Linked DNA regions of Homo sapiens. Changing the gene in region 1 together with any one later gene gives a genetic interaction. Each region holds a gene or a part of one and is shown in the gene's direction. Other genes may lie near its edges. The genes, in order: COPS4, HUS1, AURKA, ZNHIT6, CTNNBL1, KCTD10 and SKIC8.

Region 1 (4,619 bases):
TCACCATGTTGGGCAGGCTGGTCTTGAACTCCTGACCTCAGGTGATCCGCCCACCTCAGCCTCCCAAAGTGCTGAGATTACAGGCGTGAGCCACTGCGCCCGGCCAAATTTTTTTAAGGAAGAAAATATTTGGCACTTGTCACATTCTCCATATCAGTCACATTTCTCTTTGTATACTGAGTACTCATATAAAAAGCTATTATTATCTACGAAGCCTTATTTGACAAATCTAGTCCATTTTTGTTTTACTCTCACTCTGTCACAGGCTGGAGTACAGTGGCTCACTGCAGCCTCCACCTCCTGGGTTCAAGTGATTTTCCTGCCTCAGCCTCCCGTGTAGCTGGGACTTACAGTTGTGCACCATCACACTCGGCTAATTTTTGTATTTTTAGTAGAGATGGGGTTTCTCCGTGTTGGCCAGGCTGGTCTTGAACTCCTGGCCTCAAGCGATCGTCTTCCTTGGCCTCCCAAAGTGCTGGGATTGCAGGTGTGAGCCACTTCACCTGGCCTTACTCTCTTTTGAGTTAATATATTACCTCTTCATTTATCATATTGCTTATATTGTTCAGTTTTATCATAACTTTTGTTTTTGTATTATTGTAATTTAATACTTTTTTTTTTTTTTGAGATAGAATTTCGCTCTGTCACCCAGGCTGAAGTGCAGCAGCGGGATCTCAGCTCACTGCAACCTCTGCCTCCCAGGTTCAAGTGATTCTCGTGCCTCAGCCTCCCGAGTAGCTGAGATTACAGGCACGTGCCACCACACCTGGCTAATTTTTGTATTTTTAGTAGAGATGAGGTTTCACCATGTTGGCCAGGCTGGTCTCGAACTCTTGACCTCAAGTGATTGGCCCACCTCAGCCTCCCAAAGTGCTGGGATTACAGGCGTGAGCCACCGCACCTGACCATATTGTAATTTAACACTTGACATATTAACTTTTTATTTTTAATCTTCCCCTTTGTCTTCTCAGCCATATGATCTTCAAATACAAAGGTCATTTAAAAACTTTTTAGTATCATACACAGAATCTCATATAGCATCTTAAAATGCCTAAGGACTCAATTAACACCTTGGGGTGATTTTATATGGCAGTATTAAATTTCTGTTTAAGTTCCTGGTTTAAAACAGGTTTGTTAGTCATTTTATGTTATTCTGAAAAAGTAATCTCTGTTGTTAGATACTAGAATTTACATATTAGAGAAGCAAGGGAGCATGTAATGTAGCCACAGTGCTGTACCTCACTTTTTTTAATTAATTAATTTTTTTTTTTTTTTGAGACAAGGTCTTGCTCTGTCCAGGCACACGCCACCACAGCTGGCTAATTTTTGTAATTTTTTTTTATTTTTAAAATTTTTATTTTTGAGATGAGATATCACTCTGTTGCCCAGGTTGGAGTTGCAGTGGCAAGATCTCAGCTCACTGCAACCTCCACCTCCTGGGCTCAGGCAATCCTCCCCCCTCAGCCTCCCAAGTAGCTGGCACCACAGGTGTGTGCCACAATGCCTGGCTAATTTTTTTATATTTTTGGTAGAGATGAGGTTTTACTATGTTGCTCAGACTGGTCTCGAACTCCTGAGATCAAGCCATCTGACTGCCTTGGCCTCCCAAAGTGCTGGGATTACAGGCATGAGCCACCACGCCCAACCAATTTTTGTATTTTTTTTTTTTTTTTGTAGAGATGAGGTTTCACCACATTGCCCAGGCTGGTCTTGAACTCCTGGACTCAAGTGATCTACTTTCTTTGGCCTCCCAAAGTGGTAGGATTACAGGCATGAGCCACTGCGACTGGCCCTCAATTTATTCATTTATAAAATTGGGAGTTTATGTACACAATTTCTAAGGCCTCTATAAGTTATATAATTTGATGAGTATAAAACTTTGATCACTTTTTAGGTTGGTTTATTTTCATTTTTTCTTCCTATTCCCAATACAGATTAGTTGATTGATTATGAAACTATGTGTTAAAACTTAGGTTAGGCCAGGCACAGTGGCTCAAGCCTGTAATCCCAGCACTTGGGGAGGCTGAGTTGGGAGGATTGCTTGAGTCCAGAAGTTGGAGACCAGTTTGGGCAATGTAGTGAGACCCCATCTCTACAAAAAGAAAAGAACAGTTAACCAGGGGTCGTGGCACATGCCTGTAGTCCTAGCTACTCAGGAGGCAGAAGCAGGAGGATTGTTTGAGCCCAGGAATTGGAGGTTACAGTGAGCTATGATCATGTCACTGCACTCTAGCCTGGGCGACAGAGTGAGACCCTGTCTCAAAAAAAAAAAAAAAAAAAAAAAAAAAACCATAACAACCACAAAACAACTTAGGTTAATTAGCAAATTTATATAAGTGAGACACTATTACCTTTGAATATAATGTTGTTAGTATAAAATAATCTAAGAGGATATAAAAGTAAGAGATCTTAGCAATAACCCTTGATTTAATTAAATATGAAAAAAATAAAAAATAACAAACCATTGAATGTATAACTTATCTGAAAGCATGCCCAGGGCCATAAAGTAATTTATCTTTTAAGGACCCTCAAACTTAGCAATATTGAAAATATAATTTTCTAAAAACTTAATATTTCCTTGCTTTCTTAGAATAATTTATTTCTTCTTTTGGAATTTGCTATCTTTTCTATCCGTATATCTGCTTTCTTAAAGTCACTTTGATTCATTGTGGTTTTGAGAAATCAGATAACCAAGGTTGTGAGAATTTTGTATGAGTTGAGAGTCAGTAATGCTGAGTGGTAGCTTGAGGGTGTGCCCTACAAAATAAAAGTCATAAATCTGAATGAGTTCAGGTTCTATTTTTGTATATTTATTTCGTAACTCTATTCTGGATGACTTTCCGAATAATTGCAATGCTATGAGGTTTGTAAAATGTATTTAGTGCTTTTAAAAAATATTACAATTGGCTGGGCGCGGTGGCTCACGCCTGTAATCCCAGCACTGTGGGAGCCCGAGGTGGGCGGATCACCTGAGGTCAGGAGTTCAAGACCAGCCTGGCCAACATGCGGAAACCCCATCTCTACCAAAAATACAAAAATTAGCCGCACTTGGTGGTGCATGCCTGTAGTCCTCGCTACTCTGGAGGCTGAGGCAGGAGAATTGCTTGAACCTGGGAGGCGGAGGTTGCAGTGAGCCGAGATTGCGCCAGTGCACTCCAGCCTGGGTGACAGAGCAAGACTCCATCTCAAAAAAAAAAAAAAAAAAATGATTAAGACAAAAGAGATAAAGATTAGTATAGGCCGGGCACGGTGGCTAACGCCTGTAATCCCAGCACTTTGGGAGGCTGAGGTGGGCGGATCATGAGGTCGGGAGTTTGAGACCAGCCTGACCACATGGTGAAACCCCATCTTTACTAAAAATACAAAAATTAGCCAGGCGTGGTGGCGCATGCCTGTAATCCCAGCTACTCAGGAGGCTGAGGCAGGAGAATCGCTTGAACCTGGGAGGTGGAGGTTGCAGTGAGCCAAGATTGCGCCACTGCACTCCAGCCTGGGTGACAGAGCGAGACTCCGTCTTCAAAAACAACAACAACAACAACAACAAAAGAATAGTATAACACTCATATACTAACCACTCGTTAAGAAATAAAACATTACTAATACCGTTGAATATTTGAGTGCTTATGATGTGCCAAGAATTGAGATAATTGTCTACATAGCAGAGAACAAAACACAAGAATTCCTGTCCTCGTGGAGCTTGTGTGGTCACAGATATTAGGTAGAATAGTTATTAGATCTGAATGCAAATAAAGAATAAATAGGTACTGTCTGACAGCATAAATGGTATTCTATCAGTGCATTTGGCTTGGCGAAGTTTATTTTGTACAGACTAAGACATTCAGTCTTTAATGTTTGGTTTCGTTGCCTGGTCAACATTATCCTATTGCTGGTGACCCTACATACATTACGTCTGTAAGAGGAAAAGATTCAGGTCACCTCAAATAATGTTTTTGTGTGTCTATGTATTGCACAGTTGAAGGAAATATAGCTTATCTTTTAAGGCATTTGAAAGGAAATTGACTTTGTAGTTTAAATTCAAAAATAAAACCTTCAAGAAAAAGTGACACCTTAGATTCAGTAACAGAATTATAGATTCATTCTTTCTTGTGATGAGCTTGAAAACTTAAAAAATTCTGGTATACTATACTGAAAACTAGATGAAGTGGTACCTTATATAATTATAGATTTAATATCTCTTGTGATAGACTAGAAACTTAAAAAAAAATCTGTGGTATACTATAAAGAAAACCACAAACTATAGTACTATGAAAGAAACCAAGGTATGTAGAAATGAATAAATACACATCAAAGTTTGCATTAGAAAATATAGTACCCTCAGAACATTATTTTCATTTGGTATTGTTGTAGGTATCGTCAGATCCTGGAAAAAGCCATTCAGTTATCTGGAGCAGAACAACTAGAAGCTTTGAAAGCTTTTGTGGAAGCAAGTAAGTGAAATGGAAATTTCATGCTTGCCTTGTATTACTGAGCTAGGACTTTAAAGTTCTCTCAAGCCTTGTTTTGTATCAAATTATCAATATTAAATATGCATTGAGATTGATTGATTTTAGAATTTAAACTGTTTACAACTTGATTAATTTTCAGTGAATTATCTTCAG
Region 2 (4,619 bases), on another chromosome or scaffold:
AGCAGGCTTGCTTCTTTCTGCCTCACGGCTTTACATGTGCTGTTTCCCCAGCCTGAAACCCTGTCCCCTTGTTCTTGTCTTCCCATGGCTGCTGCTTCTCCTGCTTTTGGTGGTATCTGAAATGTCACCTCCTCAGTCTAAGGAAACTCCCCCACACTCACCCTGGTCTCTGTGGAGTGCTTTCTCACGGCTATAATGAGCATTTCATACAGTTTCATTTGTTTGCATTTTTATTGATCTGTTTGTTCCACTGGAACACTAAGGACCTTTTTGTCTTATCACCACACTTCCCAGTTCCTGGAAGTACCCAGAGTCTGTTCCATAAATATTGGCACCATCAATATTGGTCGAATGGCTTTTGAGTGAATAAACTGACAGCATTCCACTTAGATTTGGTATTTCAACTTTTTTGTCCCGGGTCTTCGGGTTTGTTTTGTTGTTGCTTAATATTAACAACATAAAAATATTTTTAAATTCTTTTCTTGGCAGTTATCTATGTCAAGCAGTAGCCGCATTGTGACCCATGACATCCCCATAAAGGTGATTCCTAGGAAATTGTGGAAGGACTTACAAGAACCGGTGGTCCCAGATCCTGATGTAGGTGATGCCTGCAGTCCTGCTGTACACCCCACATTAAATGGCATGACTTGAATTCTCTAGTTTTAGTTGTAGTCTTGCAGTATATTTTATTTTTAAAGGATACTTAACGAAAACATTAGATTATTTGCCTTTTGTTATTTACATAAAGCATCTTAAAAATGTTGCATATGATAGAAATGTCATGCCATCCTATATGTAGAAAATGTCTCGCTCAGTAACATCACTTAAAACACAAATGATACTTTTGGAGGACAATTAGTATTTATTAGTATTCTTGGCCTTAGACACCAATTTGGGTTTCACAGGACTTGATCTTTTCCTCAGCCGGTCAGGAGCGATATCTGGATGTGCACGAAAGCCAAGAAGAGAAGAATTTCATGGCTTAGGGCTAACATGGGGTAACGGTCATGCCGATGGTTAACCCTAGAGCTCCTGAAAGTAAAGATGATGCCAAAGGGCCCATTTCCTCTTGCTCACAATTTGTTTAAGAAGAAAGTACAGAAATATGCTGGGTAAAATAATTACTTGACTTTTACTAGATGGCACCTACACTGATTTTGAAAAAGCCTGTGTTTTATAGAGCACTCTTGGTAACAGTCTCAGATGTGATGCAGTGACTGTCTGCCATGTTTTTGTACAGAGCATGGAAAAGGCCCTTGAATCATAGGTGTAAATGTCCCTTAGAGGAGGGCCTCCTGCTGATTGCCTGAGTTATATTCCCCCTGGACCAATATAGGGGCATCTCAGCTGAAGTACCCTATTCCTTCTTGAGCCAAAAGAATGCCCACAGGGACATGGTTGCTGAGGTAACCAGAGGCAGGCATTCCATTCTTTAATTTTGCTTGAGCATCCTTGAGTTAGTGAAATAGAATTGGTTTTCTTTTTATATTTTTAAAAGAACTTTATTCAGAAAATTGTAAAATAGTATCCCATAGTTTTTGAGCATGCATGTGTTCTAGAGTTAGTTATGGGGCCCTTGTCATTACTAGAGTATATTAATATTTTTAATACTTGTGCTTTTTTCTCATTGGTTTTGTAGGTTAGTATTTATTTACCAGTCTTGAAGACTATGAAGAGTGTTGTGGAAAAAATGAAAAACATCAGCAATCACCTTGTAAGTCACAACTTCTTTAGAAAAGAACTCTGAAGTATTTGGTGGGACGGCGTGGGTTCTCCAGCTCACCCTGCAGCAGTCCATGCAGGTGGGCACCTCCTAACCGAGTTCCCACTTATGAGGACCTGGCCTGGTGCTGAGAACCTGCAGATTGCTAGTTGGATTTAGAAACCTATTCCAATACTTTTCAACTCTAATTCTTTGAGGAAAGCTTTTATATTTGCCTTTAATCTGCCTGTTTTTCCTCTTATATTTTGTATGAAACATTGTATCTTTCTTTTTTTTTTTTTTTTTTGAGACAGAGTCTCACTCTGTCGCCCAGGCTGGAGTGCAATGGCGCCATCTCACCTCACTGTAAGCTCCGCCTCCCGGGTTCATGCCATTCTCCCACCTCAGCCTCCCGAGTAGCTGGGACTACAGGCGCCTGCCACCATGCCTGGCTAATTTTTTGTTTCGTATTTTTAGTACAGACGGGGTTTCACCGTGTTAGCCAGGATGGTCTCGATCTCCTGACCTCGTGGTCCGCCCGCCTAGGCCTCCCAAAGTACTGGGATTACAGGCGTGAGCCACCGCGCCCGGCTGGAACATTGTATCTTTTACCTGCTAACGTGCCCGTATTTTTCTGTGAGTCACTGATATGACTGACAGTGAGTTTGGAGTTTCCTGTCTGCGTGCCAAGTGTCTTTCAGTGAGCCAGGGACAAAGATATGCCACACCATAGCAGCCTTTATTCCAAGCACACCTCACACCAAGCTAGGGGGCACTTTTATATTTCTGTTTATTTTCTGTTTATTTTGTGGAAGTCTCCTATGGCCACATGGCTCGAAATGTTACAGTGTGTGACAGTGGTGGGAAATGTGTAGGTTATCCTCATTCATACCTGGGGTTATTGTGAATTCTTCCTTCACTCACTGCCCCTCCCTCCTCCCCCTGCTCCCTCCTATCCTGCTCCAAAAAACACCCTTGGTTATGTCCCTGAATCTTCTAAAAACCACTGTCCACCTGATGAAGCATAAACTTTTGATCTTGACAGTGTACCAGGCCACCTTTATAGCCACATCTCTGTTGTATTGCCACACCCTCCCTGCAGAACGAGGCTGGGTTCTGGTATTCCCCCACAATGCCTCTTCTTTTTTGTTCAGTTTCTTTGCCATTTGACACATGGCTTCTTCTCTCCATCTCCCTGGAAGGCACTTAGCCATTCTCATGCTTCATCACAGACCTTTCCCCACCACCCCTCTGGAAGCTCCTCCATGGAGCTGAGCTGTCCAGTGTACATGGTAAATCACCTGCTAAGATCTCTGAAGGTCTCGTGAACCACCAGCTTCTTGATAAAGGAAACCCCATCTTAATCATCTTTGTGTCCCAGCTGCCCAGTGTGGGATTGCCACTCAGTAGGCAGCAATAAGTGTTGCATGGATCTGGAACAAAATTTAGCTTCAAGAGGTCTTTGAAATCACAAAAGTATTTTGAAGCCTAGAAAATGTACATTTGACTGTTTTTTTCTAGAGTTCTGCACACTAAGAGCAATGCTGTCATTGGACCTGGGTAACTCAAAGCTTTTCCTTCATAACTTAATCTATAAAATCTGTTTTCCATGAAGCAGTGTGCACTGTGCTGACGTTGGTGTCACCTGTGACTGCAGTGATGCTGATCCAGTTGTCAGGCTGGCTTCATCTGGGGATACCCTGGGGACTTCCAGAGAAATTCAGAGAGGCCCAGGAGAGAAAAGACAGGGCTGTTAATTGAAGGATGGCATTTGTTTGTTCTTTCTGTTCAATGAAAATGAGTCAGCAAGGTAGAGAGGTAGAAGGGTAGCTTAGAATCATCAGAGGTGTTTTGTTTTCTCTTTTTTGGAGTTTAAAAAAACATAGAAATATTGTGGAGAGGCTACTACGATCTGGAATTACTAAATGGAAAGTTATCAAGTTACTGTAGCAAAGTACATAATGAGGTCTTCCTGGGTATCCAGAATTCTGTATCTGAATATTACAGGCAGTAGAATTAAGGAAAATGGGTAGACTTAACACACTAAAAATGCCCACCTTCCCATTAGAGATGCCCAGTTACTTCCTTTCATTAAATGCGAGGTGTGACTGATGGGGTGGGTTGTATGTGACTCATGCAGGAGCAGAAAAAGAAGCAAGAACTGGAGGGAATTGACATCATGTTCTAAGACATTGCTTCTAAGTTCTACCATGCGTGTGAATCCCCTGGAATCTGGTTAAAGTGCAGGTTCTGATTTGGGAGGTCTGAGCTGGAGCCTGAGGCTCTGTTTCTGACCAGCTCCTGGGAGATGTCGATGCTGCCTGTCTTCAGACCACATCATGTAGCAGTACTTTGTGATGTGTGCCTGTATTACTCCGTTTTCACGCTGCTAAAAAGATATTACCTGAGACCAGGTAATTTATAAACAAAAGAGGTTTAATTGACTCACAGTCCTGTATAGCTGAGGAGGCCTCAGGAAACTTACAGTCATGACAGAAGGCAAAGGGGAAGCAAGGCACGTCTTAACATGGCAGCTGGAGAGAGAAGAACACAGGAAAAACTGCCATTTTTAAAACCATCAGATCTCATGAGAACTCCCTCACTATCAAGAGAACAGCATGGGAAAAGCTGCCCCCATGATCCAGTCACCTACCACCAGGCCCCTTCTCAGCACTTGGGGATTACAATTCGAGATGAGATTTGGGTGGGGTTGCTGAGCCAAAACAAACCACATCATTGCCATACTATATTGTACTTCAAATGTTATCTGAGAAACGGCTCTGCAGGGTCACCTAATGATAGAAACCAGAGTCTATGTTTAGGAGTCATGATATGGAAGAGGGGAGTCATTGGAGCCACATACCTGGGTTCAGCTCCAGGCTGCGCTGTGCAGTGAGTACCCTAGTGCTGGATACTA
Region 3 (3,520 bases), on another chromosome or scaffold:
CTTCTTGCTTTTTGAAAAGATTACTTACATAACCGATAGTCACTTCACTCCAAATCCCAGATGTTAATCATCATCATTTCCTGGTTATTGCCTCAGTTTGAGAACCCCCGATTCAGTCCGTCGGTGCTGATGGAGGGGTTAGATGACCAGAGTGGTAGCTTCTTAATCCTACGTCACAATTCAGTGGTGAGTGACTGTTTGTGTGCTCAGTGGGTGCCAGGCCTGGCTGAACACAGCACCAGGGCTGTGACCACGTAAGCCTCCATGGTGAAGAGCAGCTGATAACAAAGCAACACGAACCCACACAGACTGTTCTGGCTTGCTGTCTGCTGTTCCCAGCTTTTTTCCAACCTTCGTTAAAAAAACCTAAACCGATAAAAATGCGGAATTGGTAGTTGATGGCATACCTGTCTATACAGTGCCTACGTTCAGCAGTTTTTCCCATTTAGTCAGAAGGGCTGCATCTGCTTTTTTAGTGAACACTTGAAAATACGTTGCAAACATCATGATGCTTCAACCTTAAGCACTATAATAGAATGCATTTCCTAAATAAGGATATTCTCCTATATAACTAGAACCATGATCACTCCTAAGAAAATTAACAGCATTGTCAGTATCTAATATTTAGTCCACATTCAGATTTCTCCTATTGTCCATGACATCTTATAGCTGGTTTGTAAAATCAGAACTCAACCAAAGCCCATGCTTTGTATTGGACTGTCTATGTGGTTGGATTGTCTCTGTGGTTGGACTGTCTCTGTGGTTGGACTGTCTCTGTGGTTGGATTGTCTCTGTGGTCTAAAGCCAGACCAGTCTCCCACTTTAAAGAGGACTTTTCTGATTGTGTTGCCACTTAACTTGGACCTTTATTCCCCGTATTTGCTGAAAACTGGAATGTAGGTCTCAGGTCCTGAAGAGATTCAGGTTAAGAAAATTTTTTTTTTTTTTTGAGACAGAGTCTCGCTCTGTCACCCAGGCTGGAGTGCAGTGGTGCGATCTTGGCTCACTACAAGCTCGCCTCCCGGGTTCACGCCATTCTTCTGCCTCAGCCTCCTGAGTAGCTAGGACTACAGGCGCACACCACCACACCCGGCTAATTTTTTGTATTTTTAGTAGATACGGCGTTTCACCATGTTAGCCAGGATGGTCTCGATCTCCTGACCTCGTGATCCGCCTCCCTCGGCCTCCCAAAGTGCTGGCATTACAGGCATGAGCCACTGCACCCAGCCAGGTTAAATATTTTTGGCAAGAGTACTTCATAGGCCACCCTCAAAATTTCAGCATCACTCGTACCAAGTATCTATCACAAGGCAGCATGTGTCTACATCTCCACCCCAGTGCTGTTACAGTGGGACAGTTTCTAGTGTATTGTCATTGCGACCAGGCTTTTAAGATTCTTAGCATATCTGTAATATCCACATGCAGATGTAGAATCCAAATCGTATTTACAGAGAACTTTGCATGGCAGCTTTTATATGGTAGTGATACATTCAGTTTCTTACATTCTAGATTATTCAGGGAGGTTCTGGAGTTGGACAGATTTGGGGTTAAGCCTGATGGCTAGCTGTGTGACCTTACACACCTCGCTTCATCTGTTTCCTATGGGAATTTATAATAGTAGCTACTTCCTAGGGCACAGGATCTGGCCCAGGGGAAGACCTCAGTGTTAGTGGACTCTTTAATGATTGTTAGCAGCTGTTGTGATCATAAAACGAGAAGCACATCAACCTGAGCCTCCCTCCGTTTTCAGGAGGACCACTCTCTGTGGCACCCTGGACTACCTGCCCCCTGAAATGATTGAAGGTCGGATGCATGATGAGAAGGTGGATCTCTGGAGCCTTGGAGTTCTTTGCTATGAATTTTTAGTTGGGAAGCCTCCTTTTGAGGCAAACACATACCAAGAGACCTACAAAAGAATATCACGGGTAAGACGCAACTGAAAAGGACCCAGCACATCTGCTGGAATTCTTTCCTTATCAGCCTGAACTGCAGGCCAAGATCCGAACATCTATACTATTTGATCTCTCTAACCTGTGTTTTGTGATATTTTATCATTTGTTGTACTCCAGGTTGAATTCACATTCCCTGACTTTGTAACAGAGGGAGCCAGGGACCTCATTTCAAGACTGTTGAAGCATAATCCCAGCCAGAGGCCAATGCTCAGAGAAGTACTTGAACACCCCTGGATCACAGCAAATTCATCAAAACCATCAAATTGCCAAAACAAAGAATCAGCTAGCAAACAGTCTTAGGAATCGTGCAGGGGGAGAAATCCTTGAGCCAGGGCTGCCATATAACCTGACAGGAACATGCTACTGAAGTTTATTTTACCATTGACTGCTGCCCTCAATCTAGAACGCTACACAAGAAATATTTGTTTTACTCAGCAGGTGTGCCTTAACCTCCCTATTCAGAAAGCTCCACATCAATAAACATGACACTCTGAAGTGAAAGTAGCCACGAGAATTGTGCTACTTATACTGGTTCATAATCTGGAGGCAAGGTTCGACTGCAGCCGCCCCGTCAGCCTGTGCTAGGCATGGTGTCTTCACAGGAGGCAAATCCAGAGCCTGGCTGTGGGGAAAGTGACCACTCTGCCCTGACCCCGATCAGTTAAGGAGCTGTGCAATAACCTTCCTAGTACCTGAGTGAGTGTGTAACTTATTGGGTTGGCGAAGCCTGGTAAAGCTGTTGGAATGAGTATGTGATTCTTTTTAAGTATGAAAATAAAGATATATGTACAGACTTGTATTTTTTCTCTGGTGGCATTCCTTTAGGAATGCTGTGTGTCTGTCCGGCACCCCGGTAGGCCTGATTGGGTTTCTAGTCCTCCTTAACCACTTATCTCCCATATGAGAGTGTGAAAAATAGGAACACGTGCTCTACCTCCATTTAGGGATTTGCTTGGGATACAGAAGAGGCCATGTGTCTCAGAGCTGTTAAGGGCTTATTTTTTTAAAACATTGGAGTCATAGCATGTGTGTAAACTTTAAATATGCAAATAAATAAGTATCTATGTCTGTGTGGAGTGCTGTGTAATTCTTTCCACCATCTGTTCATTGTTGGCCTGGAAATGAGCAGGGGCTGAGAGGAGCAGGTCTCGCCCTCATCTAGTCCTGCCTCTTCTGGTCTCTCCTGTTGGGTGTACTCCTAATACTTCATTATATATATTGTTTATATATTTGTCATATCTTTGTCATCTGTCCATCGACTAAAGATACGGTGAAAGTGACTGTGATGAAGGAAAAGTAGAAGTGTTGAACTTAGAGCTAGTAGAGAAATCTGCTTGCATGGCCAATGCTCAGTGCAAGAAACTGGACAGCAGGTATGTCAGGATATGTCATAACAAAGTGGCCAATATAGAGAAACTTAAAAACATGACTCAGTAAAACTGCAGCTGCCAGCCCCCTTGGGACAAAGGGGCTTCTGGTTCTCATAGTCTTGAGCTGAACTGACTTTGACCTTCCCAAATAGTTCATGTGCCACCCTCCCAAGCTATAGTTATTATCACGTGACTGAC
Region 4 (4,619 bases), on another chromosome or scaffold:
AATTTCAGATAGAGTTAAGTTCATATAGAAAATAAAGAAGGCTCAAGAGATTAAAGAGAGAATGAAAATGGTCTTTGTTGGGGAGAGATTGTCAGGGTACTATTTTCGATACAGTGGTCAGGAGAAGCTTCTCAAAGAGATGATGTGTAAGCAGTGATCTGAGTGCTGAGAAAGAGGCTGTCATGTGAACATTTGGAGGCAGATTATCCCAGGTAGGGACAAAAGTAAAAGGAAAGACCTGAGTCAGAAACAAGGATGTCTGGTTTGAGGAATTAAAAGATTTGCAAGGTAACTGAAGCATAGTGAGTGAGGAGGAGAGTATTGAAAATGAAGTTAGAGAAACTGGTGAGGAGTTGGGTGCAGTGGCTCATGCCTGTAATCCAAACACTTTGGGAGGCTGAGGCCAGAGCATTCCTTGAGCTCAGGAGTTCAAGACCAGCCTGGGCAACATGGTGAAAACCCGTCTCTATAAAACAATACAAAAATTAGCCAGGCGTGGTGGCGTGCCCCTGTACTCCCAGCAACTTGAGAAGCTGAGGTGGGAGGATCACCAGAGCCCAGGAAGGTCAAGGCTGCAGTGAGCCATGATTGCGCCACTACACTCCAGCCTGGGCAACAGAGTGAGACTCTGTCTCAAAAGAAAAAAGAAAAGAAACTGGTGAGGGTTTCTAATTCTAAGTGCAAATGGAAACCATGGAAGGGTTTTGAACATAAATTTGCCTTTTGAAAAACCACTCTTGCACTTTGTGAACTTTAGCGGGGCAAGAATGGAAGATTGGAAGCAGGGAGACCAATTATGCAGCTCTTCCCATGATCCTTGTGAGATAATAGTGGCTTGGGTGTACTGTTTGAATTATTGGGAAGGGATTAGATTGCGATTTTGAAGGAAGAGCTAACAAGACTTGCTATTCTAATACACTTAATTTTCATACTCTTGCATTCCTTTTTTAATTCCTTAAATACTATGCAAAATTAAAGCTTACATATTTGGAATATTTGGCAACTGGTGTTGTAGAAATTTGTTTATGGTGTGATTAAATCGTATCCTGGAATTGTGTTCATTTTAGTATTGGAGTTGCAGAATTTTAATACCTTTTAAACACCTTATTTTATTGGTATTATTGGTACAGACATAATTACATTACACATATCTGAAAGAAAATTATTCATATAGCAACTCTTATTTTTCCTCAAACTTAATTAGGCATAATTAAAATTCTACTTAAAGATAAATTACTTTACAATTTTTTTTTAAATTGTGAAATATAGCAAGTATATTTTCTAAACATCACAAAATGGAAATACACAGTATAATGAATAATTATAAAATGAATATTCATTTAACTACCACCCCAATCTAGAATTAGAACATTACTGGCTTCCCAGAAGTTCCATGCCACCCTTTTATGCCCTTCCCTGATCTTTTCTCATTTCTTTATATTTTTTTCTATCTTAGGACTGTACCACAATTTGTTTACGCATTTTTTTAATGGATTTTGGATTTTCTGTAAGAATAAAAAACAGTTTAGAAACAATGCCACTACTTTTGTCTATGAATTATAGTATGTGTGTGAACATGTGTTTCTAGGGTTTATACCTGGGAATAGAATTGCTTTGTTGTGTGGTATGCATATCTTCAATTTGCCTAGATGTTACCAAAACATTTTCCAAAGTGATTGTACTAGTTTACACTCTCACCAATAGTGTATGAATGTACCTATTGTCATATTCTCGCCAATACTTAGTTTGGTAAGACTTTAAAAATTTTTGTCAATCTGTTGGCTTTGTAATTTTATTGTGGTTTTAAATGTGCAGTTCTTTAATTCCTGATGAGATTGAACCACCTTTCAAATACTTTATTGGCCATTTGGATTTCCTCTTTTATGCAGTGCCTGTTCAAGTCTTTTGCTCATCTTTTCATTGGTCAGCTTTATTTTTCTTACTGGTTTGTGAGAATTCTTGGTATTTCTTGGATGCTAGTGCAAGTTGGTTGTATGTTATAAATACCTTCTTCTAGTCTTTGTCTTGTCTTTTCATTTTATAGTGTCTTGTGGTGAATGGATGTTCTTAGTTTTAATGTAGTCAAATTTATCATTTGTTTCCTTTATAGTTAGTAGGTTTATATGTTTATAAAGAAATCCATCTCTACCTTGAAGTTAGGAAGTTATTCTTTTATAGTTATTGCCTAAAAGCTTTATACTGTTGTGTTTTACACTTATGTCTTTAACTGGAATTGATTTTTGGTATCATATACAGAGGAGTTCCCATTTAATTTTTCATATAGATAATCCACTTTTCCCAGCACCATTTATTGGAAAGTTCATCCTTTCCCTATTGCTCTGTAGGACCACCTTTGTCATATATCAGCATCCCTATATGCTTGGGTCATTTTGTGGCCTTGTCTTTTCCATTCTGTTGGCCTACTGGTATATCCTGCACCAATACTATGCTCTCTGAATTATTGTGGTTTTTTACTGAAACTTGTTATCTGATTAAGTCCTCCCACTTTTTTTCTAGAGTATGGCTATTCAGTGCTGTTTTCAAGGCAAAATAATTGCAAATCTAAGCAAGGGATGGTCCATAGCCATAACTGCTAATGGATTTTTTTTCTTTTTTCCTCTGTTTCAGTGTAACCATACAAGTTTCCTAGCTTGCTCTAAAAGTAGAGATTGTTTCTGGTTCACCCTTATCCTGAAGGTATATTAGGAGGGTTGGTCACTGCTATTAGAATTATTATAATTATCACTACCATTACTGAAACTAAAGTCCTCTAAATTATAAAATTACATGTAATTTCTTAAAACAGTTTCCTACTTAGCCAATGATAGCTGACCCATCCTTTCCTTGGCTTATGGACTTGATTCTGACTGTTTACATTGCAAATTCTAGATCCCTATTCACTTAACAAAAAACTTGCGTTTATATTTTGCCTCTTATTTGAGTGATCTTTCTTCTTCCTTGACTTAATAAAAATCTGGTATTACTTCCTTCATAACTCTGGAATTGCCCAGTTTAGCTTAATCAACCCAGGTGGTCAATGTAATAACACATGTCAGAGCCAGAATGTTCTCATATCCCATTTTGTGCTTCCCACAACAGTGGTTACTTTAAGCTAGGCCTTGTACTAGGCAATGCCTTGGCTCTTCCCTTGAGTGAGCTGTCTAGTAATAAAATCAGTGATATATATATACAGCTAACTGGTAAAACCATCGGTAAAAGAAATCAAGAATTGTGTAGGTAGCCCCCGTGATTGCCAAATGACCTGTGTTTTTGTTTGTTTAATCTCCATTAAATTCTTCTTTGGCTCACAGAACATATGGTTAGAAACACAAGCTCTGGAATTAGACAGACCAGGGTTTGAATACAGGTTCTATCTCTCTGGGATAGCTGTATGATGTTGGGATCTCACTAATTTTTATTGCTAAAATGGAGATGATAGTACCTATTCTCATAGTATCATGGTGAAGATTACATGAGATTACTGCTTAGAGCTGTTGTAACACTTAGGTTCTCAGTAAATCTTAACTATTATTGAACATTGTTTTACTCACTTTTTAAATTTAAGGAATTTAAAAATTAATTTGTCTGTTTGGTTTTTGTTGTTAGATGTACTTTATGAAAAATCGTGCCCGGAGGCAAGGTATTAACTTAAAACTTCTACCCAATGGATTCACCAAGAGGAAGGAGAATTCAACCTTTTTTGATAAGAAGTAAGTTTCTAACTTTTTAGTATATCAGGTATTCTGATTTGATCAGGATCATTCTTTAAGGTTTGGTTGCTATAGAGCATTGCTACCCCAAGTGTGGTTCTGTAAACTGTTTGTTATTGGTCCATGACAAGATAACTGTAGTAATTGTATGTCATGTAACTCTAATAAAAATTTGGGTTTGCAGTGTGTGCGTGTGTGTGTGTGTGTGTGTGTGTCTTCATATCATTTGAGAAGCTTCTCAAACATTAATGTGCATACCAGTCACCTAGGCATCTTGTTAAGTATGCTTGTTGTGATTTTTCAGTAGGCCTGGGTTGGAGTTTGATATTGGGCATTTCTAACAAGCTCCTCAATGATGCTCATTGTTTGAGAAACATATTTTGAGTAGCAGCGCCCTGGAACACTCTCATACATTAGAAATAAACTGTTTCTTTGAGAACTAAGATACCAAGAAAGTATTTCAGGGGCTTCCAGGACAAAACGAGTAAAAACAGGACGCCTGTACTGTTTTAATCAAGGCAGCTCTGCTTTTATTTTCTTTCTCCACTGGGTTTCCAAATAAGATTTCAATTAAAAGCTGTCAATGTAGAAGAAGGGGACTTTGAACTCTTGAGTACAGATAATATAACAGAGATTAGTTTGCTGCTGTCTGAAAATGTTGGGTTGAAAAGGCCCCAAGAGTACAGAAGAGAACAGGATCCCAAAGTTCTTTAAGTAGCCAACTAAATTATCAGATAATACCTTTCAGAAGTCAAGATTTTGGATTTAGAATTTTTAAAAACTTGAGGGAGTCCCTCCCTTTTCAGCCTCTTAGTAACTGTGGGGCCTTGAACAAATCAACTTCCTTTCTCTGGGCCCCAGTTGTATGATGTGGGGAGTTGACCCGGGTAAACTACGGAGCCTTTCCAG
Region 5 (4,619 bases), on another chromosome or scaffold:
TCCCCTTGCTCTCCCTCTCACTCCCTGTGCTGCTTTTGTACTCTGTCAAGCTGTATTGATTTTGTTTGCTGATGTATCAGTGTTAGACGGCTGTAAAATCTGACAGTTAGGTTCATTTTTTTTCTTCCTCTATTTTTTTCCCCTTTAGAAAACAGGGAATTGCTTGGGGAGCTGGATGGAATCGATGTGCTTCTTCAGCAGTTATCCGTGAGTAATTCTTATGCTTCCTGTCTGCTGTAAGATACATGGTCTGCTTTGAATGGGAGGTGGAGCTGGAAACTGTGGGAAGGAATAAGCCATGTGCTGCAAGCCATATGGAGCATGTTGGCAGGTTTGAGGGTTATACGGAGGGACATGGTTTGCCTCCTTTTCTTAGTCATTTGCTCTTTATGACCAGACATCACTGTGTATCAGTTCTGAACTTTCTTCATCTTCTGATATGATATTGTCAACTCAAAAAAGATGTGCCTCATGCTTAAGTGTGTATGTTCTGGGCCAAGCATACCAAATTATTTTCATTTGACCCACTGCCAAGATTATTCACCAACCTTCCTTTCAATCTGCTGTGAAAATGGAGTATGTTCATTTAGGATCTGAATAAGCTCAAGGAGTACAAGTTCCACTGCAGTGGGGTGGGGGTCAAGGGGAGGATAGGGGAGGATGTGGTGCTGAAGGCTGGAGTGAGAACTTGGAAACTGCCATTTTCTCACTGTAAGAAATGTAAATCCAGTTGAAATGTTATTCTGCTGGCATTCTGAAAATACTGTTAAGATTTCCTCTTACAAGTTTTAGCTGTGTTATTCTAAAAACAGGACTGAAAATAGATCATTTGGATAAAATCTTAAGAGTGTTGGGAGAGTCTGAGATGTCAGTTTGCATACAGCTTCCATCTTGGTGCCAGCAGCCTGAGTGTCTTGGCCTCCACCCCAAAAATAGAGCTTTGAAATGTGAATCTGTTTCCAGTTCTGGGAAGGTGCTTAGTCCTTTTCCTGTGAGATTATTGATCTTCTTGTAGTAGACTGTATGGGTATGCATATACAGTTTAAAGGCTTCTCTTAACATGCCTTACATCTCTGGCAAAAAGAAAACTAATGCTGTAAGCCCTTCCCATGAATTAAAGCCCCAGCTCCCCTGTGAGGGAATTCAGTAGCCTTGGTTGTCAGGAAATGCTTCCTTATATTGAGCCACGATTCAGCCCTCTGGATTGTGGTTGCTTTTAGAAGGGAAAGAAATGAGATATGGTTGGGTTGGGCAAGTGGAGGGCTTTGAGGGGAGTTGGCAAAGTTGTTTCTCATCCTGGATAATGATTTCAGGGGTGTTCACTTCATTTAGTTTTATATGTCCTTTATGGAGTTTTTCTGTATCTGTGTTATATTTCACGATAAAAAGATTTTGTTTTTTATTGGGTTTTGGTTTTTAAAAAAATCTGCTTGCCTGGAACTGTCAATTACTGATGGACCCAGTGGTCAGTAGAGTGTTTTGGCTTTTTTTTTTGCATGTATTTAATATATGTGAATCATTTAGTTTCTCTAAAATGGAAACTGATGAGAATTTTGTTTGGTGAGCTTCTGTTTCCTCAGTCGTAGAGTTATGACCCACAGGTTTTAGGAATTGTTGGATGGAGGCTCATGAAAAGACATTCTCTTATAGCTCTGTGCTTTGTGCTGTTTTTGCTTGACAGGTGTTTAAAAGACACAATCCCAGCACGGCTGAGGAGCAGGAGATGATGGAGAATCTGTTTGATTCCCTCTGCTCCTGTCTAATGCTTAGTTCCAATCGTGAGCGCTTCCTGAAGGGCGAGGGTCTTCAGCTGATGAATCTCATGCTCAGGTATGTTTCGAATGCCCTAGTTCTCCCACCTTTTTTGCCTGACTTTTCACTGTTAGCCTGAATTCAAGAGCATGTAGCTATGATCATTTATTCTGTTGGGTTTCCTAGACTTTACCCTGAAGAGTAAAGTCTTCAGGCATGGGGGGATGTGTTTGTATAGGTATGTGGTCTTTCCTAAAGTTAGAGTAGATGAATAAAAAGTATATTGTGTTCTGTTTGTGCCCTACTGTGGTGGTTGCTAATACGTCCACTCCATTGAAGGACATTGGTGTTTTTCCTCTCCTTCCCATAGTGTGTTAGTTTTGGGGAAATCTAGCCATTACTTCTAAACTTGGACTAATTTTCTGTATATATCACATAGACCTATCTATGCCATATGTTTGTATTTTTATTGAAAGCAGCGTATCATTCATATTTTTCACTCCTCATTCAGTAATGAGTTGTACATGTGCTGTATGCCTAGCTTAGGAAATATGAAAACGTGCAAGACAGTTCTAGAAACTTTTATTTATAGTACTTTCCTTGTGTGTCTTATTATTTATACGCTAATTCCTGAAAGTGGATCTTATATTAGTTTCACAGTTATTTTATAGAATCCTAAAGTTAGAAGCAAAAAGGGGAGAGGAAGCTTATGTTGATAACTCTTGAGACCCTGTCTAGGAAGGGGAGTAGAGAAGTGTGTGGGGGAAGGCTGAGGGGATAACCAGACTGTGGTATAGGGTCAAGGGACTTAAAAAAAAAAATCGAGCATGTTTATGTGGTTGGAAGATTCTAGTCATTATGAATTGTGCCCTACAGAGGAGCAAGTTGAGATTTAAAAAAAAAAAAAACAAGAAAAAAAGAAATGGAGCCAGAGTCTGCTGTCTTAAAACTTCAAGTATACTGAAAGTTCTGTTGAACTAAGATATTTCTTTGGAAAGGTTTTTCATAAATGTGATATATATTTGTTAAATAGAATTTAGAATACTAACATATAAAACTGCTATTAAAACATTGACAAGGTACTATGTTAAGTACTGGGCATACACAGAAATACCTAAGACAGAATTTCTGTCTCCACAAAGTTAGGAAAACAGTTCTGTGAGCTAAACACAGCCTGTCTTTGGGTGTATATTTTCTTCTAGTCTTTTTTTCTATAATTTTTAACAACTTTTTAAGCCTGCCACACATAGGATTTTCTGTATTGCTACATTTCAGACATAAGATGCTGTTTCCCATGCTGTGAATAATCTTCATGAGAGTTTTCAGTAACTGCATCATGGCCTCTAAGGGACTGTAGCTTACTTAGTATTCTTCTGTTGTTGGCATTGAGGATATTTCCAATGTTTTGCCGTTATAACAAATTCTACAGTGACCATTTTTGTGTTTAAAATGATGTTAGGATTATCCAGGTACAGTAAGTCCTCACTTAACATCATCAGTAACATTCTTGGAAACCATAACTTTAAGCGAAATGATGTATAATGAAACCAGTTTTTCTGATCATTGTTATAACGGTGTTATTTGAGGATCTGACCTCCTATATCCCGTTTTACTTAAAGTTGCCATTTCCAAGTCTATCTATGATGTTAAGTGATGACTTACTGTGTATATTTCTAAAATATATTATCTTTAAAAGGCTTCTGGGGGGCTGGAGGCACAGTAGACCTCTTCATTTGTCCAGTGTGTACCAGACCTTGCATTGACCAAAAGTCTTCCTTTGAGGAATTGCTTTTAAAAACAATTTTTAAAAAAATGCAGAGAGGAGCATGAGAAATTACTCAGAGGCCTTTTGTGTTTAGCTGATTTTTGCTAGCTTTACTCTCTTGAGTCTTTTGTTTATCTCCCTTACCCTTCTAATTGCTTGTCCTTTTGTTGAAATGACCCACCTTCTCTCAAGTAAATAGCATAAATAGAAGATACATTTGGCTTCTTGGATCTTCTAACCTTAACACAATGTTCTGAAGGGACTTTTCCTTAAGCTTCTTAAAGGTCTGAATTGCCAGTGTCTTTGGTTGGTTGAGTGCAAATATGAAGTGATATATTTCTGCAGCATATGGCTAGGTATTGCATAGCAGAGGGGAGCTGAATAAATAACCAGAAATATGGATTATTCAAACAGGAATGCTGAGATTCAGGGAGGCTAATTAAAGGAGAGCTCCAAAAAACTTAGAAACTGTACCTCTCTAGATCTCCTAACTTCATTTTTGAATGCTGAAGTTGCTGTTACATTCATTCTTTGGCATTAATTAGCTATATTAGCAGATTCAGCATTTCCTTTTTTCTCATTCCCATACTCTTTGTTCTGTGTTATTTTTCTTCAGACTCCCAAATGGAAAGTTTAATTGGGATGGAATTTTTTTTCCATACTATAGTCACCCTTTCTGATCTTCTAGTAAGAGCTGCCAGGTGGCTCTTTGTCTAGAGAGAGCCTATTCAAGACTATGAAGCTGTAACACTAGAAGTTCAGGAAAGTTTCTGTGGTTCCATTGCCCCTAAATATAGATCTTTACTTTGACTCAGTCATTCATCAGACAGTTGTGAAATGCCCACATGGAGAGGTGGCAGTATGGAGCAGGGTGGAAGAATGGGCCTGGGACTTGTAAGTGTGGGTTTGGAACATGCTCTTTTACTTACTAGCTCTGGATATTTGGTGAGTTACTTTAACCTTTGTGACCTTCTCACCCTCAGTTTTTCATCTGAAAACCGGCACTAATAATACCAAATTTACAGGTATTTTGGCAGAATTAAACTATATAAAGTATCTAGGAGAATTCTACAGTTGCAAAACACTGCTAAGGTACTATGTT
Region 6 (4,619 bases), on another chromosome or scaffold:
ACCCCTCTGTACCTCTCTGCCTGGATAGATAAGTAGACAGATGGATACAGGGGTATAACTCTGAGCTATAATTCACACATATCATAAAAGTCATCTTTCTAGAGTGTACAGTTATTATTATATTCACAATATGTGGTTTTTATATATTCACAAGTTGTGAGGCCATAACGACTATCTAATTTTAGAACTTTTTCACTGCCTGAAAAGAAACCCTCTATTCGTTAGCAGTCACTCCCCATTTTCCCTCAACCATTGCTTCCCCAACCCCACAGCCCTAGGTAACCACTAATCTGTTTTCTGTCTTGATGAATTTGCCTGTTCTGGACATTTTTATGTGAATGGAATTGCATAATATATGGCCTTTTGTGACCAGATTCCTTCATTCAGCATAATGAGATTACCTAAGAGGTTTTCAAGGTTTATCCATGTTGTAGCATGAATCAATACTTCATTCCTTTTTATGGCAGAATAATATTCCACAGTGTAGACCACATTTTCTTTACCCATTCATCAGTTGATGGACATTTGGGTTGTTTGCACTTTTTGGCTATTGTGTGTAATGCTGTTATGAACATTCATGCAAAGTCTCTATGTGGACTTACGTTTTCATTTCTCTGGGAACAGAATTGCTGGGTCATGTGGTAATTCTATGTTTAATCATTCGAGGACCTGCCAAACTGTTTTCTAAAGTGGCTGCACCATTTTACATTCCCACCAGCAATATATGCAGGTTTCTAGAATGCCATTTGGCCCTTGAAAACATGTGGCTCTAACTCAGGAACTTGAGGGATGCAGGGAGGATTTAATCAGGTTACTCAAGATCTTTAAAAAGACCTAGGATATAGAGTCTCCCTTGGGCAGTGCCATTCTGCTCCTCTTGGGGCTCGGTGAGGTGCTCTCCTCCACCTGGTGCCTGTGCCCAGAGGCTGTCACTCAAGCACAATGGTTAGGAGCACTCAGGCTTAGGGGCCAGGGCTGTCTTTTGGGGGGCGTGTCTGCCATTTATTAGGTTCAGCCTTGAGCAATTACCTAATTTCTCTGATCCTCACTTTCCTTCTTGAGTGATGGAGATTGGAGTGCCTTTGTCATGGGATTATTGTGAGGTTGAAATGAGGTAGTGGAGAAAGTGGGCTCAGTAGGGCCCTGCGTGTAGAAGGGCCCAGCAAATGATGGCAGTTTTTACCAGCTTGTGGTCACCGTATCAAATGCTCTTTTGCAGCAATTCTGACGACAATATGTTGAAAAACATTGAACTGTTTGATAAGCTGTCTCTGCGCTTTAACGGAAGGGTCCTGTTCATAAAGGATGTTATTGGGGATGAAATCTGCTGCTGGTCCTTTTATGGTCAGGGCCGGAAGATTGCTGAAGTCTGTTGTACCTCCATCGTCTATGCCACTGAGAAGAAACAGACCAAGGTAAGAGCCTCGAGAGGACAGTTTGGAGTGGCTGTTCTGAAACACACACCTATAGAACTTCCTTTCACTTGAGCCCAATACAGAGGGAAATGCTTTTAAAATGCTTTGCTTGCCTTGTGATTGCTCATCCTTAAAATATTTATCTTTTAGGCCCTGCAAGGAGCCAAATGTAGGGTTCATCTGGCATTCCTTTAGCTCCCTACCTTGCTGGCTTCCTTCCAAGCATGCTTGACTCCCTGACTGGGCTGGACTCTGGGGATGTGTTTTTATATCATCCTCTCCAAACCAGTAGGCTTGACCTATCCTTTGACTTCTCCCACCATGCCGTTCCACAAAGCTGGATTGCTCTGCATAGTGCTGCTAGAGATCTGGCCCCCCCTTAATTGAATTTGCCTGCCCTTTTGGGGCTCTGCAATTGGGTTTTCTGTCTTTTTAAACTTTTAATTCACATTATACACTCTGTCATTTCTTTAACGTGTCTAAGGGAATTCTGGCTATCCAGTGACATGCAGCAGGTCTGCTGTGGGCCGACGGTCATGCCTCTTGTCACCCTTGCACAGGAGTCTTAAGAGCCTGAGCCTGTAGGTCACTTACCCAGGTTACTATTGTCCCTGCAGCTTTTGGGGCCACAGTTCTGCATGATTCTGTAGCTGACCTCGAACAAAAAGCAAATGAGAAGAAATCATCACATCACAAAGTAGAAACCAGAGTCTTTTTTTTTTTTAACTTATTATTGAAAATTGAAGCCATACACAGAATTATAGTGTGGTGATTTCCCCTGTGCCATCACGCCACGTCAAGGGCCATCAGCTTGGGCACTCTCACTCAGTCTGTATCTACTCCTCCTCCCCAGCACTCACAGGATGAATTTGACAACATATTTTATTCCTAAGCATTCAAAATCTATCCTAAAAGAATAGATATTGTTCTTAAGGTAGCCAAGAAGTGCTAAACACTGAGGTTCTTTTTGCTTTCAAAGATCCCGGGGGCAGGGGGTGAACCAGAATCATCTGCCTCTCTCTCCACATTGGCAAGACATCATGCCCCTTTTCTCCTGTGAACTGTTTTTTTTTTTTCAGGGCTGTGAATTCTTCCTGTAATTAGACCCCCATTCTGTCATGGTTTGATTTTTTAAAAATATACCTGGGCTGCCTCTGCCCTTGGGTAGTAAGAGGAGAGTCACCATATTGATTAAGCTTTAAAAGATTAAGACTTCTCATTTTTAGAGCTTAATAAGGAACAAGGGGATTTAGAGACCACATGGTCTGATCCCAACTGTTTCTAGATTAGCAGACAGGTTCAGGAGTGGCATGTTCTTGTGTTTGTAAAGCTAGTTAGTGGCAGAGCCAGGATGGGAAGCCAAGGGCCTCTTTCTTTTCTCTTTGTTTTGAGAGAGAGTGTTGCTCTGTCACCCAGGCTTGAGTACAGTGACACAATCATAGCTCAATGCAGCCTTGAACTCCTGGGCTCAAGTGATCCTCCTGCCTCAGCCTCCTGAGTAGCTGGGTCCACAGGTGCATGCTACTACACCTGGCTCATTTTATTTATTTTTGTAGGGACTGGCTTTCACTATGTTGCCCAGGCTGGTCTCGACCTCCTGGCCTCAAGTGGTCCTTCTACCTTGGCCTCCCAAAGTGTTGGGATTACAGGCATGAGCCACTGCACCCAGCCCATATCACTCTCCTCTCCTGTCTCATCTCCACTCTGTTATTGAGCCCTGCTGGTAAGTTGTGTTTTTGTTTGAGGTTGTTGGTTATTGTATTTGTCAGTTCTCAAGTGCTCATTTGGTTTTTCTGTCTCCTTGCTGAGACTCCCTATGTTTCCATTTGCTCTAAGAGCATTGGCCCTTACTTACTGGAACAGGTTAATAATAGCTGCTGCCAGGTCTTTGTCAGGTAATTCCAAAACCTTGTGTCACCTTGGCGCTAGCATCTGTGAGTTATTTCCCACAGGAGTTGAGAATTTCTTGGTTCTTGTGTATTGAGAAATTTTGATTGTATCCTAAACATTTTGAATATTGTTAAAGGACTCCAGGCCTTGTTTAAATCCTAGGGAGAACATTGATGTTTTTGTTTTAGCAGGCAATTGACCCAGTTGGGCTCAGGCTGCAAGCTCTAACCAGCCTTCTGTAGTTTGTAGTTGCGGTGACAGTTTGATTTTCAAAGCCTTCAAATCTGTCCTAGCTGTGTGCCATGCTGTGGCCCGTCTGTCCTGGGCAGTATCTCTTGCAGCATTCAGTTCTTTCAGTCTGCGTATGCAGTTTAGGGGTAGATCTTGCAGCTGGGTGTGGGTCTAGGAGTTCATATACAACTTCACAGGCTGCTTTCTCAAGCTCCTCTTCTCCGCAGTTCTCTAAGCTTCCCTGGAGTCCCCTTCTCTGATCGGCCAGCCAGAAAGCTGGGGGTTTGGTTATTCCCCCTTTGCCACCCACTTTCTGTAACCATGCCTGTATTTTGGGCCCAGGAGCATGAAGATAGAAAAAGCAACCAGATTCTCCCAATCCTGCTGAGACCACAGCTCTTCTCATCAGAAAAGAAGGTTCCTTCCCTCAGAGTTTTGACTCCTGCAGTCTCTGGTTGCTGCCACAGGAATGCTCAGGTCTGGGTGCAAGAAAATAAAGAAAAGGACTGAGCATGGTGGCTCACACCTGTAATCCCGCACTTTGGGAGGCCAAAGCAGAAGGATTGCTTGAGTCCAGGAGTTTAAGACCAGCCTGGGCAACATAGCAACACCCCTGTCTCTACCAAAAATTTTTTAAAAAATAGCTGGGCATGGTGGTGTGTGCCTGTAGTCTAAACTACTTGGGAGGCTGAGGTGGGAGAATCATTTAAGCCCAGTAGTTCAAGACCAGCCTGGGCAACATAGCAACACACTCATCTCTACAAAAAGTTAGTTGGGCATGGTGATGCATGCCTATAGTCTCAACTACTTGGGGAGGCTGAGGTGGGAGAATCATTTGAGCCTAGGCGTTCAAGGCTGCAGTGAGCTATGATTGTGCCACTGCACTCCAGCCTGGGTGACAGAGCAACACTCCCTCTCAAAACAAAAAAGAGAAAAGAAAGAGGCCCTTGGACTCCCGTCCTGGCTCTGCCCCTAACCAGCTTCACAAACACAAGAACACGCCACTCCTGAACCTGGTCTGTGAATCAAGAAACAGTTGGGATCAGACCATGTGGTCTCTAAATCCCCTTGCTCCTTATTAAG
Region 7 (4,556 bases), on another chromosome or scaffold:
ACATTCCCACCAGTGTATGAAGGCTCTGGTTTCTCCACATCCTTGCTAACACTTGATATTGTCCTATTTTAATTAAAAATTTAAGAAACCCTTAAACTAAATTTAAACTTGATAAAGAATTAGCATCTTTACAACATAATTTTCTGAATCAGGACACTGCTACTCCGATTTAAAAAGATGTATCCTTTGGTAAAACTTTAGTTTTTAAAATTAAGGCCAAGTCTTTTCACACTGTATTTTTGTCCTTCTTTTTTCTGTTCAGTGGATGCCTGGACTTTGGCCTTTTCTCCTGATTCCCAGTATCTGGCCACAGGAACTCATGTCGGGAAAGTGAACATTTTTGGTGTGGAAAGTGGGAAAAAGGAATATTCTTTGGACACGAGAGGAAAATTCATTCTTAGTATTGCATATGTAAGGAAACATTGCTCTCTGTTCTCCTTCTGATTCTTTCAGTTTACCCTTCCAGCCTGTTGCAGTCCTTGCCACAGATTCTGTCTTGGTCTGGTCAGGCAGCTGCTGTCTCACTGGTGTGGTTTGCCAAGTAGCCAGTTAGACCTGTAGATAGCAGGAGGTTTGCTTGTGTTTGGTAGGGACAGCTTAACAACACGGAGTCTGAAAGTGCTAATTTCTCCATATGTTCTCTGAACAGAGTCCTGATGGGAAATACCTAGCCAGTGGAGCCATAGATGGAATCATCAATATTTTTGATATTGCAACTGGAAAACTTCTGCATACCCTGGAAGGTATATATCATCATCTTATTTTGACAAACTGGGTTATCAAATCACAAAGGAAGAATTATTCTTTCATTGAAATGCCATTAAATGGCAAATGGGCATTAGATTTACAAAATATCAATCTCAATTGGAAAACTGAAATGCCTCCAGGTTTTAGTCTTGTCACTATAGTTTTTTTTGTTTTTTTGTTTTTTTGTTTGTTTGTTTGTTTTCTTTTAGAGACAGGGTCTCGCTCCCAGGCTGGAGTGCAGTGGTGTGATCATAGCTCACTGTAACCTTGAACTCCTGGGCTCAAGGGATCGTCCCACCTCAGCCTCCTGGGTAGCTGGGACTACAGGTGCACACCACGATGTCTGGCTAGTTTTTAAAATTTTTGAGGAGATGGGGTCTTGCTGTTTCCCAGACTGGTCTCTAACTCCTGGCTTCAAGATTTCTTCCTGCTTTGGCCTCCCAAAGTGCTGGGATTACAGACATGAGCCACCATACCTGGCCTGTCACTATAGATTTAACCTAGACATACTAGTTCTTGTAACAGTGTTAAGTGCTTGTTTGGGTGAACAGACTTACTTTTTATTTATTATATCGTAATCTATCACATTATGTATGTGTGTGTTAATATATATTTGCTATATGAATGTCTCATTTCTGTTATTTTGGATTCTGATGAACTTTGTGATTGGAAACAACTTTTTGTTGATAATTTGAAGGTGGATGAAAGTATTGTGCCCACTGTCCACACCGGTGGCCTCTGGAAAGGAGGACTGGGTAGCTAAAGAACAGGGGTAGGTTGGAGGGAGACTTTATTATGCGTACTGTTGTGCTGTTTTGAATTCTAATCAAGTGAATTTATTACGTCCTCACATTGCTATAGTTTATCCTTTATACTATAATAAAGGATTTGATAGGGAAATAATACCTTAATTTGTTCAACCTTACAAATCAGGAGCAATGTATATATCCTTGTGTGGCCATATTTGTAGTAGAAAAGTTATTTAAAGCAATGTATGCTGAGGGCAGGGAAGGGAACTAAGGAGAAATGGCTCTGGGAGGAGATACTGGGGTTATGTGGATGTTTTGAGAACATTAAGAGGAAAGGCCCAATCAGAACTCTTGCTTTTCTGCCTGAAGCACCTGAGCATTTCAACTCAGTGGCTCATAATCATTAAAAGGGGCATTGTCAGTGGGAAGCTGAGTGAGGAGGCAGTGGTTCACCAGATTAACAAGGGCCTTTATGAATTTCAGGCCATGCCATGCCCATTCGCTCCTTGACCTTTTCCCCGGACTCCCAGCTCCTTGTCACTGCTTCAGATGATGGCTACATCAAGATCTATGATGTGTAAGTTACCTTAAAGGCATCTCCCTTACTACTGATGCCCATCTTGTCCCTTTATTGTTACAAGGAGCCCTAGGGAGGAGCCCTAGTAAAGACCTGTGCTCAAGTCACATCAGACACCTTGACTCCCCAGGCGGTCCTCCCCCGTTCAGCGCCCATTTTTAGTGTGTGTCCTCAAGGGCTGCTTGGAGGAGGATGTGCATGGGTTCCCTGGTAGGATCAGATACTTGCTACTTTTTCTCAGGCAGCCTGATTTTTGTGAGCTTACTGATTTCAAATTCTTTGGGATAGGTAAGTAATATACAGATGAGGAAATGGAGCCATGGGCTGTAGCTGGCCCCTGGGGACAGGAAGAAATTAGAGCATCCATTTTCAAGGGTAGGGCTGTTCTAGCAGACATGCCTCTGCCCTAGTTAGGGAGCAGTCAGTTTATAAGCCGCCCTGCTACAGGCCTAGATGGGAGCGTTTTTGGTTTTGGCCCTTGACTGCGAGTATAGAAGCAAGTTAATCATCCTCTTTCATTCACAGCCGTCATTGTAAATCTGTGCGGACCCCTATGTCTTCTTCTTTTCCCCCATCATTTTTAGTCCTGACTCCTATTCCCCACTGAGGTATCCCCTGTAATGTGTTGGATCTGTGTTCTTGATACTATGACTCGGTGCTATGGTCAGCTCTCACTGCCAGGCATGCCTCTGGCTCATTGCTCCCGAACATGGCATTCTAATCCACTGCATGTACATATCACACTCCAACCTTAGCCATGGGTGCCAAGACCTCCTCCACCTGCATGTACTGCAACCCTGACCATCCATGTGTGTCCTTTCAGGGGCCTGTGATAGTTGCTTGGGAGTTTAAACCTCACAGTAGAAACACTGCTCCTTCTAGCCCACTTCTGGTTAAAATGCAGTTTTTTCTGGCAAAAGGTTATCAGCTAGACATAGAATTCTAACTGCAGTTTTTAACTGTAACTGAGTGAGGGTGCTGTAGCCCAGAGGGGAAGATGTCTCTATAGAGTTATACTTGCCTGTTAGTGGCAGAGGCAGTATAAATGCAGCAGTTCCTTACATTTGTGACTTTATGATTTCTATTGCCACTGTTTTATTGATCCTCCCAGCAACCAATGAGGTAGCAGCACAGATTAGTGTCCCCATTTTGCACATGAGAAACCCAAGCTGAGGTGGTTGATTTGCCCAAGGAGGTGGTACTGAATGAAGACCCAAGAATGTTTTTTTCACCCAATATTGATGCATTATTATTAATTAAAGTCTGTAGTTTACATTAGGGTTTACTCTTTGTGTTGTACATTCTATGAGTTTTGACAAAATTATGTGTAGCCACCCCTAACTACAGTGTCACGCAGAATAGTTTCACTGCCCTAAAAATCCCCTGCTCTACCAAATCATCCCTTCCTCCTGCCTTGAGCCCCTATCAACTACTGATCTTTTTACTAAGGCCCAGGACTTTTTACCCTCCCATGGTCCCACTGTATCCCACCTGCCCCCTAGCCCCTAACTGAGGTCTGCTCCACTCTGCTGAGGTCTGTGTTTAGGGGTAAAATTGCTGACCTCAGTTAGGTCTTATGGTGGTTCTCCTGCCAGAGGTGGTTGGGTTTCATTTTTATTAAAAAAGTGAAAATAGCTGTTGTAATTAGACCTGTCTTGTTCTTGATTAGGTTTAAACTGGTCTCTCCAAGCTGCATCTGTCATAATGAATACATCTTGACACTTTCCTTGGACTGGGAGCACTGGCCCCATACGGAAAGGCTGCTGGTGCAGGCAGGAGTCTGAACCTGCCCTTCTCCTCAGATGGCTTCCTTGCCCCGTTGGTTCTCAATTTCCTCATCTGAGGGGTTGGCTTGCGAAGCCTCTGTAGTGTGGTTCTTTGTTCATTTTGAGCTTCAGCTCTTTGCTTGTGAAGGATTTTATTCTTGGCTTTTGGTGGTGTCAACACATTATGGGTTAATGCTACTATTAAAATTTGTCTCTAATGCATGAAGCTACTTCATTGAAAGAGGAATTTTTGATATAGTATTCATGGTCATTATAAGGATAGCAGATTTGGTCCAGCTTATTGGCAGAGTTAATAATATACTTTCCACTTCAGTGATTATACTGTAGAAATTAACATCTCAATTTTGTTTGAAACTTTCCCATTTCAGACAACATGCCAATTTGGCTGGCACGCTGAGCGGCCATGCCTCCTGGGTGCTGAACGTTGCATTCTGTCCTGATGACACTCACTTTGTTTCCAGGTACTTAATGATTCTTAGCAGTTTCTAAAATGCTGGGGAGATGAGAGCAGTCTTCTTGTATAGATTGCCTTAACATTTAAAGATGTTTGACCCTTTTTTATTCAGTTAGCCTTTCTTTTCTGCAGTTCTTAAAATTTTTATTTAGTGATGTTAGTTGACCTTAGCTGGAACAAAAGTCAACAAGTAATCCTTTTAAACAGTAAAACTCTTAGTTTTTTCATTATAAATTGAGGCT

Evidence for each region.
Region 2: changes in COPS4 (region 1) and HUS1 together harm fitness more than expected from each alone (negative genetic interaction), as found in Homo sapiens cells (one large-scale study listed by BioGRID).
Region 3: changes in COPS4 (region 1) and AURKA together harm fitness more than expected from each alone (negative genetic interaction), as found in Homo sapiens cells (one large-scale study listed by BioGRID).
Region 4: changes in COPS4 (region 1) and ZNHIT6 together harm fitness less than expected from each alone (positive genetic interaction), as found in Homo sapiens cells (one large-scale study listed by BioGRID).
Region 5: changes in COPS4 (region 1) and CTNNBL1 together harm fitness more than expected from each alone (negative genetic interaction), as found in Homo sapiens cells (one large-scale study listed by BioGRID).
Region 6: changes in COPS4 (region 1) and KCTD10 together harm fitness more than expected from each alone (negative genetic interaction), as found in Homo sapiens cells (one large-scale study listed by BioGRID).
Region 7: changes in COPS4 (region 1) and SKIC8 together harm fitness more than expected from each alone (negative genetic interaction), as found in Homo sapiens cells (one large-scale study listed by BioGRID).

Annotation. Positions count from the first base shown.
Region 1 is NC_000004.12:83,041,258-83,045,876, forward strand, and holds part of COPS4 (COP9 signalosome complex subunit 4), read left to right. Parts: intron 1-4,368; coding exon 4,369-4,448; intron 4,449-4,619. UniProt on the Homo sapiens protein: Component of the COP9 signalosome complex (CSN), a complex involved in various cellular and developmental processes.
Region 2 is NC_000007.14:47,972,708-47,977,326, reverse strand, and holds part of HUS1 (checkpoint protein HUS1), read left to right. Parts: intron 1-489; coding exon 490-597; intron 598-1,639; coding exon 1,640-1,714; intron 1,715-4,619. UniProt on the Homo sapiens protein: Component of the 9-1-1 cell-cycle checkpoint response complex that plays a major role in DNA repair. The 9-1-1 complex is recruited to DNA lesion upon damage by the RAD17-replication factor C (RFC) clamp loader complex.
Region 3 is NC_000020.11:56,368,890-56,372,409, reverse strand, and holds the end of AURKA (aurora kinase A), read left to right. Parts: intron 1-1,750; coding exon 1,751-1,925; intron 1,926-2,069; coding exon 2,070-2,252; 3' UTR 2,253-3,020; downstream 3,021-3,520. UniProt on the Homo sapiens protein: Mitotic serine/threonine kinase that contributes to the regulation of cell cycle progression.
Region 4 is NC_000001.11:85,701,248-85,705,866, reverse strand, and holds part of ZNHIT6 (box C/D snoRNA protein 1), read left to right. Parts: intron 1-3,606; coding exon 3,607-3,710; intron 3,711-4,619. UniProt on the Homo sapiens protein: Required for box C/D snoRNAs accumulation involved in snoRNA processing, snoRNA transport to the nucleolus and ribosome biogenesis.
Region 5 is NC_000020.11:37,777,506-37,782,124, forward strand, and holds part of CTNNBL1 (beta-catenin-like protein 1), read left to right. Parts: intron 1-148; coding exon 149-207; intron 208-1,681; coding exon 1,682-1,830; intron 1,831-4,619. UniProt on the Homo sapiens protein: Component of the PRP19-CDC5L complex that forms an integral part of the spliceosome and is required for activating pre-mRNA splicing.
Region 6 is NC_000012.12:109,452,914-109,457,532, reverse strand, and holds part of KCTD10 (BTB/POZ domain-containing adapter for CUL3-mediated RhoA degradation protein 3), read left to right. Parts: intron 1-1,219; coding exon 1,220-1,415; intron 1,416-3,878; coding exon of another isoform or gene 3,879-4,046; exon of another isoform or gene 4,047-4,619. UniProt on the Homo sapiens protein: Substrate-specific adapter of a BCR (BTB-CUL3-RBX1) E3 ubiquitin-protein ligase complex. The BCR(BACURD3) E3 ubiquitin ligase complex mediates the ubiquitination of target proteins, leading to their degradation by the proteasome.
Region 7 is NC_000015.10:78,285,806-78,290,361, reverse strand, and holds part of SKIC8 (superkiller complex protein 8), read left to right. Parts: intron 1-262; coding exon 263-411; intron 412-649; coding exon 650-743; intron 744-1,979; coding exon 1,980-2,073; intron 2,074-4,228; coding exon 4,229-4,321; intron 4,322-4,556. UniProt on the Homo sapiens protein: Component of the PAF1 complex (PAF1C) which has multiple functions during transcription by RNA polymerase II and is implicated in regulation of development and maintenance of embryonic stem cell pluripotency.